2 separate regions of the Homo sapiens genome follow, and region 2 is linked to region 1. Evidence: fine-mapped expression QTL. A gene starts in region 1. The other region holds a variant in brackets. All regions are shown on one strand. Distances are between the middles of the regions. Region 1 holds the start of SLC35D3 (solute carrier family 35 member D3). Region 2 has its middle 34 kb from the start of SLC35D3.

Region 1 (5,372 bases):
TATAAAGCAATGAACCAAAACAACTTTTAAAATAATTACTGAAAGCAAACTTCAGACTTCATGATTAAAGCTAAGAACTCATATTTTCAAAATAGCTTTAACAGTTTCTATCAATATATAATACAATAATAGGACACTTATTTTTAAAAAACAAGTGAGTAGAATCAGAGTAAATATGATATTTCAGATGACTATAAACAGTAAACATCAATTCAATATATTTATATATCATTTCAGCAATATACTCTTTGCCCAGCTGGCGATAAAAACTGTAGTTCTATCATCAAAAAATGCATCCCTGAATGTCATCTTTGAACTTACTAAGTGCTGTCATCATTTCTACACTCCATCTTTGGAGGGGGTGGCTTAGGGACTCTTGGTACATGCAGATATTTAGTTATGGTTATAATGACAAAAAGTAAATGTGCCAGGAGTCTGAAGCAGAAACGTTGCCTTACTTTGTTAAGTAGCTTCACATTCTTTTGTCTCTGTGATGCCTCAGGTGAAGTCACACTAAATAATTCACACAGGTGCTAATTTTGTTGCTCTGTGTCAGTACCTTTCAGCTTCTTTCTTTTCTTCCCTTCCCCACTCCTCAAAGAATAAAACGGGGAGGCCTCTCATTAAAACACGTCATTTCTAACATATAAAATAAGTGTATGCACATAGGTACGTACATGCACCTCCTTCTCAAGGACTGGGTAACTCCTCGTTTTCTATCAAATAATCCTTCTTCATATACCTGGTTCCCCTAACCAACCTCCATACCTCGAGGTAAGCATCTTTTAACGACCTCCTGCTCCCTTCTTCAGAGCTCCCAGCCACCAGCGGGACTCCTCGGGGGCTGCCCCTGACCTCTTGCCTGCTCTCCTGAGCGGGGCCACCTGCTGCCTCCCCACCTTCTGACCGGCCATTTCCTCCCTCCCCGGGCAGCTCCTCCATCACGAACGGCAGCTGGTCTCCACTTAGCTGCGCCTCCTCTCCCCGAGGCTGGGCCTCCAGGTCCTCGTAGTTGCTTTGCTTTCTGGTCTCCATGAACTTGGCCACACAGTAAATGATAGAGCCCAGGGTGTTCACCACCACGCCGGCAATGAACAGAGAGGTGGGCTCCACGTCGCTGAAGGCCACCATGCCCACCGTGATGGTGGCGATGCTCTTCACCACACCCACGAAGCTGGTGGTCACGGCCGAATTGATGTAGGTGCAGTGCAGCGTGGTGAAGTTCATGGCGCAGCCGATCAGGATGCAGGCCACGAAGATGCAGACCATGGCCGGGTCCTTCCAGCCCGGGAAGGTCCAGGCGTGGATGGAGTCGGTGCTGGCGAAGGAGCAGATGACCAGCAGCGGGGTGGCAGAGACGGCGATGACGTACTGCGCGGTGAGCGGCCCGTGCTCGGTGTCTGCGCTGGCCTTCTGGATGAGCACCAGGTAGGCAGCGTGCACCAGCACCGCCAGCACTCCCGTGACGTACCCGATGGGGTCGCCCGTCAGGTCGCCGGCTCCTGCGGCGCACGAGGAGGACGGCCGAGCCCGGGCGGGAAGGAAAAAGAGAGAAGACAGCAGGTTGGCGTGGGCGGGGACCCACGGGGAAAACGCGTCGGGTAGGAAAGGAGACTGGGTTCGCGCCCCAGCTCTGCCCACCGGATTCCTGAGTGACAGACGCCCGCCGTCCCTCGGCCACCCGTGTCAAATGCGACAGCCAAACTCAGTGCTCAGAGCGCCTTCCCGCCATATCCCCGGGTCACTCCATCTTCCTCTGTCCAAGACAAAGGCCCCGGAGAGCGCAGATGCCCTCGGGGCAGGTGCTGTGGCTTCCCCGAGCTGGCACCGAGGTCACTTGGGCGCGTGGTACCTGCACCCCGGAGCCCCTGCCCCGTGGGGCACCAAAGGGAGAGGGAGCCCCAGCCAGTGGCCTGCAACCCGGAGCGGGCCAGGCGCGGGGGAGAACGCCTGTTCTGGCCCCCAGTGAAGCTTCCCCCTGCCCAGGCTCTCGTCTCGCTCAGCACCTGGGTCGTCTGCCCCAGGGCCGCAGCCCCCTGCGCAGCACGAGACACCCCGCAGTAGCCCCGGGAACCCTCAGCTTCGCCCCCATCCCCCACCTCCATTCCAGCCCCTCGTGACCCAAGGAAGTTCACGGCCCCCTCCTTCCGGCTTGGTCCAGGCTTGGAGGACTCCAGCTCCCAGGCTCAGGCGGCCCTCCCACCTCTCCCGGAGAATGGGGTGACAGGGGAAGACCAGGAGAGGGGGCGACAGGAAGGGCGATGCCGGGTGAAGCATGGGCGAGGGTCGGAAGCCAGGACATTAGGGGGCAGGGGGACTTGGTGGGGCGCTGGGGAGCTCTCTGGGTCTCGGAAGTCCCTTTTGCGAGCTGAGCGACCACTCTCAAAGCTCTCCGGCTCTCTCTGCCTCAGTCTCCCCATCTGGAAGTGAGGTCGTTGAACTCAGTGATCCCCGCGGTCTCTGCCCGACGGAGCGGGGTGGGTGGGGTCGGCTGGGGGTCGGCGCGGGGGCCCGCTCACCTGCCAGGGCGGCGCCGCAGGTGGTGATGAGCACCGCCGCCAGCACCCCTGGCGAGGGCGCGCCGTTCTTGAGCACCAGGACGCCGATGAGCATGGTGACCAGGGGCAGGCAGCGCTTGAAGACCACGTACATGGGCAGGCTGAGGCCGCGCAGGGACCAGAGCGTGAGGCTGGACTGCAGCGTGGAGAGCACCGCGACCCCCGCGAAGGAGCGCGCCAGGCTCAGACCGAAGGGGGGCACGGCGATGAGCCCGAGGCGCCGCAGCAGCTCCAGGCTCAGCGCCGCGGTGGAGCTGGTCAGGCACTGCACCAGGGTCAGGAAGGAGAACTGGTAGCGGCTGATGAGGAACTTGAGCAAGATGTTGAGGGAGCCCGAGAAGACCCCGTGCGCGATGGCCACCGAGATGCCCAGCACGCGGCCCCGGCACAGCTGCCGCATCGCGCCGGCCTCGCCGCACCCAGCGGTGGCGGAGCTCCGCGACCTGCGCGCGAGGAGCCGGGAGCAGCGGAGTGAGGGCGGCGGGGGCGCCCGCCCAGCGCGGCGGCGAAGGGCAGGGGGCGCCGGCTCGGCTGCAGAGGGCAGCTCCGGCCAGGCGTTCTTGCGGTTAGGCAGCTCTGCGTCCGACTGCCCCGCAGCTCCGGGGAGGCAGTGACGAGGGCGGGGGACTCCGAAAAGTGGCAGAGGTGGCGGGGGGGCCGGTCTGAGAGGAGTGGCGGGAATCCTAGCGACAGCTATTTGTAAGTGGGTGATGAGCCGCGGTGGGTTGTGTCCCGCGCGGTTTCACCGTCAGGGAAGACGCTCTGCGGAGGGAAGCGGGCGGCTGGGCGCCCCGGGGCGGCTGCCGCAGGGCGGGACGGGGGCTCTTGGGGCGCGGCGCCCCTCTCCCCCCACAGAGCCAGCGGCTCTCGCTTGCCCCTTCCTCCTGGCCGAGGGGCTTGGGTTGGAGGGATCGGGACACAGCTAAAGATTTTAGAAACAGCGCATCAGGATCGAGCGCCGTTTATTGGTCGCAACAAGTGACGGCGCCCCCAGCCCCCTCGCCCCGGCGCTGCAGCGGCTTTTTCCACCCACTGTCCCTCCCGGTGCAGCGGCGGGACCTCGTCCAGCTGCCCGCCAGGGAAGCGAAAACCGTCGGTGCCGGCGGGCCCCCGAAGCTCCCGATCCCGGCGACGACGCCCGGGCATCGGAGGAGGAACCCGCGGCCCGGGGCGCTGTCCAGGGGGTGCCTCGGAGCCCGGAAGCTGGCTCCTTCCGGTGCCAGGCCACGCGCACCGCTCTCCGCACGCCTTCCAGAGAGGGTCCCGGGATTATGCGCGCGGCTCCGGGGAAGCTTTCAGGGGGTTCAGTGGTCTCGCCCAGCAGCGGGGCCTGGTGGCGGGGACACATTCGAACTGAGGCAAAGATGAAAATAAGCAAACGCGCAGAAACGAAGTCACTAACACGAGTAGCCACCACCAGGAACCGAGGAGCTCGGGGGCGACGCTTCCCGAAGCGTGGGAGGGGAGGCTGGCTGCGCTCGCAGAATGGGAGAGTAGAGGGGGAGGGGGCGGGAACCCGGGGCCCCTCACCCTGCAGGGAGACTCCGCGTGGCGTTCTCCGGATCCCAGGGAACTGATCCCAGGGAACCCTCACCCTGCGGGACCGTCGTGGGTTGCTTTCGGAAGCAGGACAACCGGCAGGCGGAGGGCGGGGAGAGTCACCACCTCCCTGGGCCAGGGTTCACACCTTTGCACCACAGGACTTGTGAACTGTGTGTTTCCTATATGACTAAGAGAAAAAGGGAATTCTAATTTTGGAGAGGGAGTAAGGCTTCGGTAACTCTTTGTTCTGAATTCAGTTCCCTGGAAAGTAACTCGCGCGGACCTGTAGTTAAATCAGCAGCAGCCAAGGGTTTCGCTCAGCCGAGGTAACCGTTAAGCGCCAGACAGTTTGGTTTTCAGGCGATTTGAAATTTGTGGCCTTGGCCAGGGTTTGGCTATAAGGGAAAGGTTCGAGATCGCTGCGCTCCAGCACCCCTTTCGTTCACCACCAGCAGTTTATTTCTCTTAGCCCCGGGAATCGTAACCTCCTAACCTTTTAGCGCTGCATCACGTTGCCTTAATAGACAGGATCCATTTCTCTCGTGGTTCTTCTGTTTTCTGCCTCTTACTTCCACCTCTGTGCTGAACGCGACACTTCAGCCAAAGTGCTGAAGTCGTGATTTACCGCAACAGAGGAAGAAAAAAAAATTACAGCAGGGATCAGCAGCATCACAGCAGCCCTTCATTTGGGCCAGCATTTGGGGCTCTGGATGCTCACTTTGGTGAGCTCTAGAGAGCTCGGGGTCAACCAGTCCACCAGCTTATGTGCCCGGTGCCTAGGAGGGCCACGTCCCTGCTCCCGACAGGTGGGCACTCAAAAAAAGTTTGTGAATGGCCCAGGGTGCCAACTTTCCAGGAATAGCTGGAAAGCATTATACTGAAACACGTGCTTCCGGTTCTCTGGGGAGCCCTTGGTTTTTGTTGCTAAAACTTGTGGTTACACACTATTGGCTGTTTAAGTGACTCTGTTTTTGTAGAGTTAATGTTATTTAGGAAATAATGAAGTCTGAAGCACCAGTTCAAATTATGTGTATGTGTGTGGTATAGTCAAAATATATTGATTCAAAACTCTGAAAATTAACTTTTTACAGATATCAGCAAATAACAGATTTCTGCTTCTAGAGACTATCCCAATAAAAGCATGGCTGCTTTAAGCCATCCTAAGTGCATATTATTAATATAAAGAAGTGGCTGCACAAACCTACTTTTGGAATGATTCATTTCTGCCCGCAATTATAATTGCATCCATTTGTGATACTAACATTAGGTAAA
Region 2 (5,372 bases), 34 kb before region 1:
GCTGCTTCTCTCCAACTTCCAGCCCTAGACCCCAACGCCCAGCTGCTTCTCCTCTCTGTTGGCTGAGTCTGGAGTCTTCTATGCACAGGATAGGGGCAGAGTGGGCCATAGGTAGTTTAGGGAAAGGCAGCATTCACATGGGAAAACAGGGATAGAAGTTCTCACTTTGGACCACGGGTTTCAGGCTTTTTGGCTTGAGGGTGAGATTTCGTCAGGGACCACACTTTTCTGCCTAGAATTTCTCTGCCCCCGTCCCTATCATGCATATAAATGGCATTCTCGATGCCAAGATTATACCTATGTTCACTTATATTAGGATTGTCGTGCAACCACCAGAAGCATGACTGACATCAATAGAGGGAAATAAGGCATTGTAACCTAACCAGATAGAAATATGACTAAATTGAAGTATTTCCACTTTTTAAATAATAACTTTATTTAATTTTTAATAACTGAAAAGATGGGAAAGAAGCAAAATATCAGACTCATCAAGAAATGATTCCACAGATCCTTATCTGGCAGCTCAGAATAATTGAGTGACTTGGCCAAGGTCATGGTATTAATGGATGAAAGGGATTTGAACCATGACCACCTGGCATCAGAGTCTAAACTCTACATCATTTAACTTCTCTGAAAAACTAAGTCCCTTATTCTATCCCCACACCCTGTAGTTCATCCTTACTCTATTCATGGCTTTTAAGAGCTGAAGCCCAAGCGCTAGAGCCCAGAGCTAAAAGAGCACTGTAACAAGCCCTCTGGGGCTCCAGGTGTCACAGGCACCCCCACCTGGATGCTGCTTAATCGCCTAGATGCTTACTCTGGCCGGAGAAACTTTGACTTCACCTGTGGATGTCAAGCTCCTGCAGGTTCTTAGGAGCGTTCTGGTTGTTGGCAAGATTGCCTTCCTTTGGGCTTTTTGAGTTGCCGGCTTTGGTGGTGAACCAGTGCATTGGCTCCTGACTGCTACTTACTTTTCAGGGCTTAGTGAAAAATGACAATGTGGGGTCCCTTTTGCAAAAACCAAGAGAAAGGATTTTTCTTTCTCCCCCTCACGGTTTCTCTCTTGCCCCTTCCTGGTGCTTGTAATTTGCTATGTAATGCCACACGCCCACCGGCACAATACTGCAAGGTGAGTGCAGATCCTCAGAAGCAAGGGGTTGGCGTGGGGGGCAGGGGGTGAGCATGCGCATGAGACCACCAGGGCCTGCACTGGGGCAGGGGGTGGTTGCAGTGGGGGAACCTGGAACTGGGTGGGTGGATGGTGGGGGAACCCGGGACTGGGTGGTCGGGGGGAGCCTGGGACTGGGTGGGGGGTGGGAGGGGAGCCTGGGGCTGCATGGGTAGGTGGTAGGGGAGTCTGAGAGTGGGTGGGTAGGTGGTGGGGGAGTCTGGGACTGGGTGGGTGGGTGGGAAGGGAGCCTGGGGCTGGGTGGGCGGTGGTGGGGGAGCCTGGGACTGGGTGGGTGGATGGTGGGGGAGAGCCTGGGACTGGGTGGGTGGGTGGGGGGGTGGAAGGGGAGCCTGCAGCCAGGGCCAGGAAAGGCAGGGGGGTGGAAGGGGAGCCTGCAGCCAGGGCCAGGAAAGGCAGGGAGGTGGCGGGAGGCTCCAAGGTCCCAGCTTCTGCTCCATCATCCCATTAGGACTTCACTTAAAAGACACCATGTATTCAAAGATAAATCAGAATTCCAAGACGGTGGCTGCAGACATTGGGAGTGCGGGGCCCCCTTCTGGGCTCAGAGGCTGTGTGCCAGCACTAGTCGCAGGCCTATGCAGCCGGCCCTGCCCCAGCTCCTCTTTCTCCATTGCAGTGCCTCCTCCTTGAGCTCCAGTCGGCCTGCATTGGGCCGTAATTAACTTTTTTCTTCCTCCCCTCCTAACCACCCCAGCCCACAGCCCACAGCCCACTACCCACAACCACTGAGCTGGCTGAGATAAGCACAAACAGCCACAAGGAAAGCCAAGAGGCCCTTCTGTGTGAGGCCGACTAGAGTCCCAGAGTGCATTCCACTTAATTACCGGGAGAAATTCTCTAGAACTGCTTTGGATACTATTCCTAGAACCAATTAGCCCGAACCTTTCATTTACATGCAACTCGAAGATGCAAAAACAAATAACTATGGTACTGTATTTTAACAGCTTAAACAGCTCTGTTTGTTTAGCTAAAACAGATGAATAGCTTTCCAAAAATACACAGAAGAGCACTTCCGGCCTGATGAATGCATAACAATGACAGCTGCGAAGTCA[C/A]AAAGGAAGTACCATTTAGGTGGCATTTGCTAACAAGTTGTATTTTAGGAGAGAAAGGAAAAAGTTAACATAATTAAAGTCAAAGCCAAAGTAGAAACCTTTTCCCATCTACTCGATTTTATAAATTAACAACTTGATTAGCAGTTTGAAATATGATCTGGTTGCCATCAGCCAGGAGCAGGGTAGAGCATTTCATAAGGGAAGGCTCCATCTCAGAGGACTTTTTTGACTTTACATTTAAATAGAAATTATATACATGACATTATTCTATAATTGTGTGACTATAACATTTGCTTTTGCTTTCATAAAGATATATGTTAACAATGGGATACAGGCCGGGCATAGTGGCTCACACTTGTAATCCCAGCACTTTGGGAGGCCAAGGCGGGTGGATCACATGAGGCCAGGAGTTCAAGACCAGCCTGGACAACATGGCAAAACCCCATCTCTACTAAAAATACAAAAAAAAAAAAAAAAAAATTAGTCGGGCATGGTGGCGCATGCCTGTAGTCCCAGCTACTAGAGAGGCTGAGGTGGAGGTTGCAGTGAGCTGAAATTACATCACTGCACTCCTGAGATCACGTCACTGTTTTTTGAAACAGAGTGAGACTCTGTTTAAAAAAACAAAGAAACAAAAAAAAAAAACCTATCAGTTACATATATATGCTTAGGAGCCATATTTAGAAAGCAGAATTTCTACAAATAGGCAGGTGAGTTTCTCAATTCCAGTGAATAGTTAAAAGCTATGCTAAAAAATATAAAACCAATTTTCAAATATTTTTATTTTAAAATTATGTGCTCAAAATAAGTTAAGAGTTTCATGAACTTTGAATTCATGCAAAGATTTTAAATTTTTATTTTGTTGTTTTACTTCTCATGTCTCATTCAAAGATGGCTTTTAAATTTTAACTTAATTAATTTTCCACGCAAAAAGCCTAATCTTACCAAGGATGATTTTGAATTACATTGGTAACAATGTAAACCTGATAGCAAACATTTCTTGCTATTAATAGAGATCTGTCAATTTGCAAATGAATAGACTTATCCGAGAAATGGCCTGTTTCTGAATGACACTCGAGATGTTCATGTGTATTACACACAAAATAAGGTTACACACAAAATAAAGACCCTTAGCCATTTTGAAAGTGCTGAGAGATAGTATACTCCAGTTTAGAGAGAACTGAACTACATTATTCCAGCTCTAAGGACAGTTTAATTTAATTTGGGAAGAGGAAGCAACATTTGCAGCTAAAACAATGTTAATGATGGAAACCGGGGACACAGAATCAAAGTGCCCAGGCTTTATCTTAAGTCCTCTCCCCTTTTTCCAAATTGTCCCCTTCCTATCTTCTGATCTTCACCTGATTTATAAACCTTGAATTCTAATCTTAATTCCTTTCTTGATTAAACCCCTGAATAAAAATCAGCCCCTCCAACACACTGTCTCACAACCAAACATGTATTATTATTTAGCCTGCTTTGGTGTTAATTGACAAAACAAAACTCAAGACAAAAACACTGGGTTCTAAATGTTGTGCTGGTGAGAGTGAGTCAATGGTCAGTTTATAACACAGAGGGGCCAGCCACAGTCAAAACTGAATTAACTCTTGTGTGCTCTTTCAGTTCTCCCTTATTTCCCTACTTGACTGGTACTCCCTTCCTCTTCCCCCACAGCCCTCTCTACACCCTACTCCCATCCTTGCCCATCCTATCGTTCAAAAGAGTTCTTACCACCTTTTTCATTAATGCATCCATCATGCCCTACATTGGTGATCCTCAAAATAGGCACATGTCGTATTATGGAAATCACTTCCCAGATCCTCATCGTCCTTAGGAGCTTCTGCCTAAAACCATTCTTCCTGAGAAAGAGCCTGTGTGTTTCAGGTGTCTTGCTGGTTCTCTGTTCCCATCTCCCCTTTCACAGGCACCCTTTCTTCACAAGAATAAAAAGGAAGGCACCCATCTCATCTACCAGGACTTGCCACCATGGAATGCCTCAGGGCTTAAAAGCCTCTGAGGTACCCAAAATGAAATTAATCTGAAATCCTTGTGTTGGTGTTGAGACCATAAAAGACTCCAACAACTGGGTAACAAATCCTTTTCCAAGTCAAGTAGCTTCCACCTATTTGGAGGAAGGGCTGATAAATCATTAAAAAATTTTTGGCTAGGTTCGGTGGCTCATGCCTGTAATCCCAGCACTTTGGGAGGCCAAGGCGGGTGGATCACGAGGTCAGGAGAGTGAGACCATCCTGGCTAACACAGTGAAACCCCATCTCTACTAAAAATACAAAAATCAGCTGGGCGTGGTGGTGGGTGCCTTAGTCCCAGCTACTGAAGAGGTTAAGGCAGGAGAATTGCTTGAACCCGGGAGGTGGAGGTTGCAGTGAGCCGAGAGCACAACACTGCACTCCAGCCTGGGCAACAAGAGTGAGACTCCATCTCAAACAAACAAACAAAAAAATTCACAATATATCACCATATGATTTTGTTAGGACATAACTTGGAGAAGTGAATGGCTTTCCTACAACAAAACACTTCTCATTTCCAACTACTTATTTTAGTGAACAAAGTTTCTCAACACTTACATATGTAAAAATGACAAATATGATGAGAATTGGAATGTAACCCTATGCCTTTCTGATTTTACTATCATTTGGTCCACTAATGCACTAGCAATATACCAGTGGCGATGAGATGTTGTCTGAGAAAGCACATTTCAAGGCCAGTGCACACTAATTGTTCAAAAAGACCCATGACACAGAATACTTCTCTTTATTGTGTCAGAAATGTTATGAGAATTGGAGCTGAACCCTATCTTTTTCTAAGTAATATTCATCCATGAATATATAAAATAACTTTGTTTTTTGCTTTTTTAATCCTGCTCCTCCTGCAATGAAATAACTTTTTAAATGCCCTATCTTGTTAAGAGATGTGGTTCTAATGGAATTGTATCTTTATATTTAGTAACTACTAATACTTGTAATATAATGATGTTGAGGACCTATGAGTACTAATAACAATTGTAATGATAACTAAATCCAAAAGAAAACCTTTAAACACTTGGAGTCCTATGGTCAAAGAAAATAGAACATCTATTTCAATTTATATACATATTTTTGTTTCAGAAA

Evidence for each region. PIP is the estimated chance that this variant, and not a neighbour inherited with it, causes the effect.
Region 2: its variant is the best candidate, but not a certain one, in a credible set for the expression of SLC35D3 in whole blood (INTERVAL, PIP 0.78).

What each region holds. Positions count from the first base shown.
Region 1 is chr6:136,920,015-136,925,386 of GRCh38, reverse strand. It overlaps SLC35D3 (solute carrier family 35 member D3), which reads right to left and starts at 3,086. Exons shown (of 2, transcript NM_001008783.3): 1 at 2,520-3,086; 2 at 1-1,502. The coding sequence starts at 2,958. The coding sequence ends at 691. RefSeq lists an enhancer at 3,558-4,064.
Region 2 is chr6:136,953,834-136,959,205 of GRCh38, reverse strand. No RefSeq gene overlaps it. Among named protein-coding and RNA genes, the nearest start is that of SLC35D3, 34 kb to the right of the region's middle. RefSeq lists enhancers at 377-943, 2,080-2,648 and a silencer at 1,621-1,915. The variant C/A (reference allele first, on the strand shown) is at 2,245.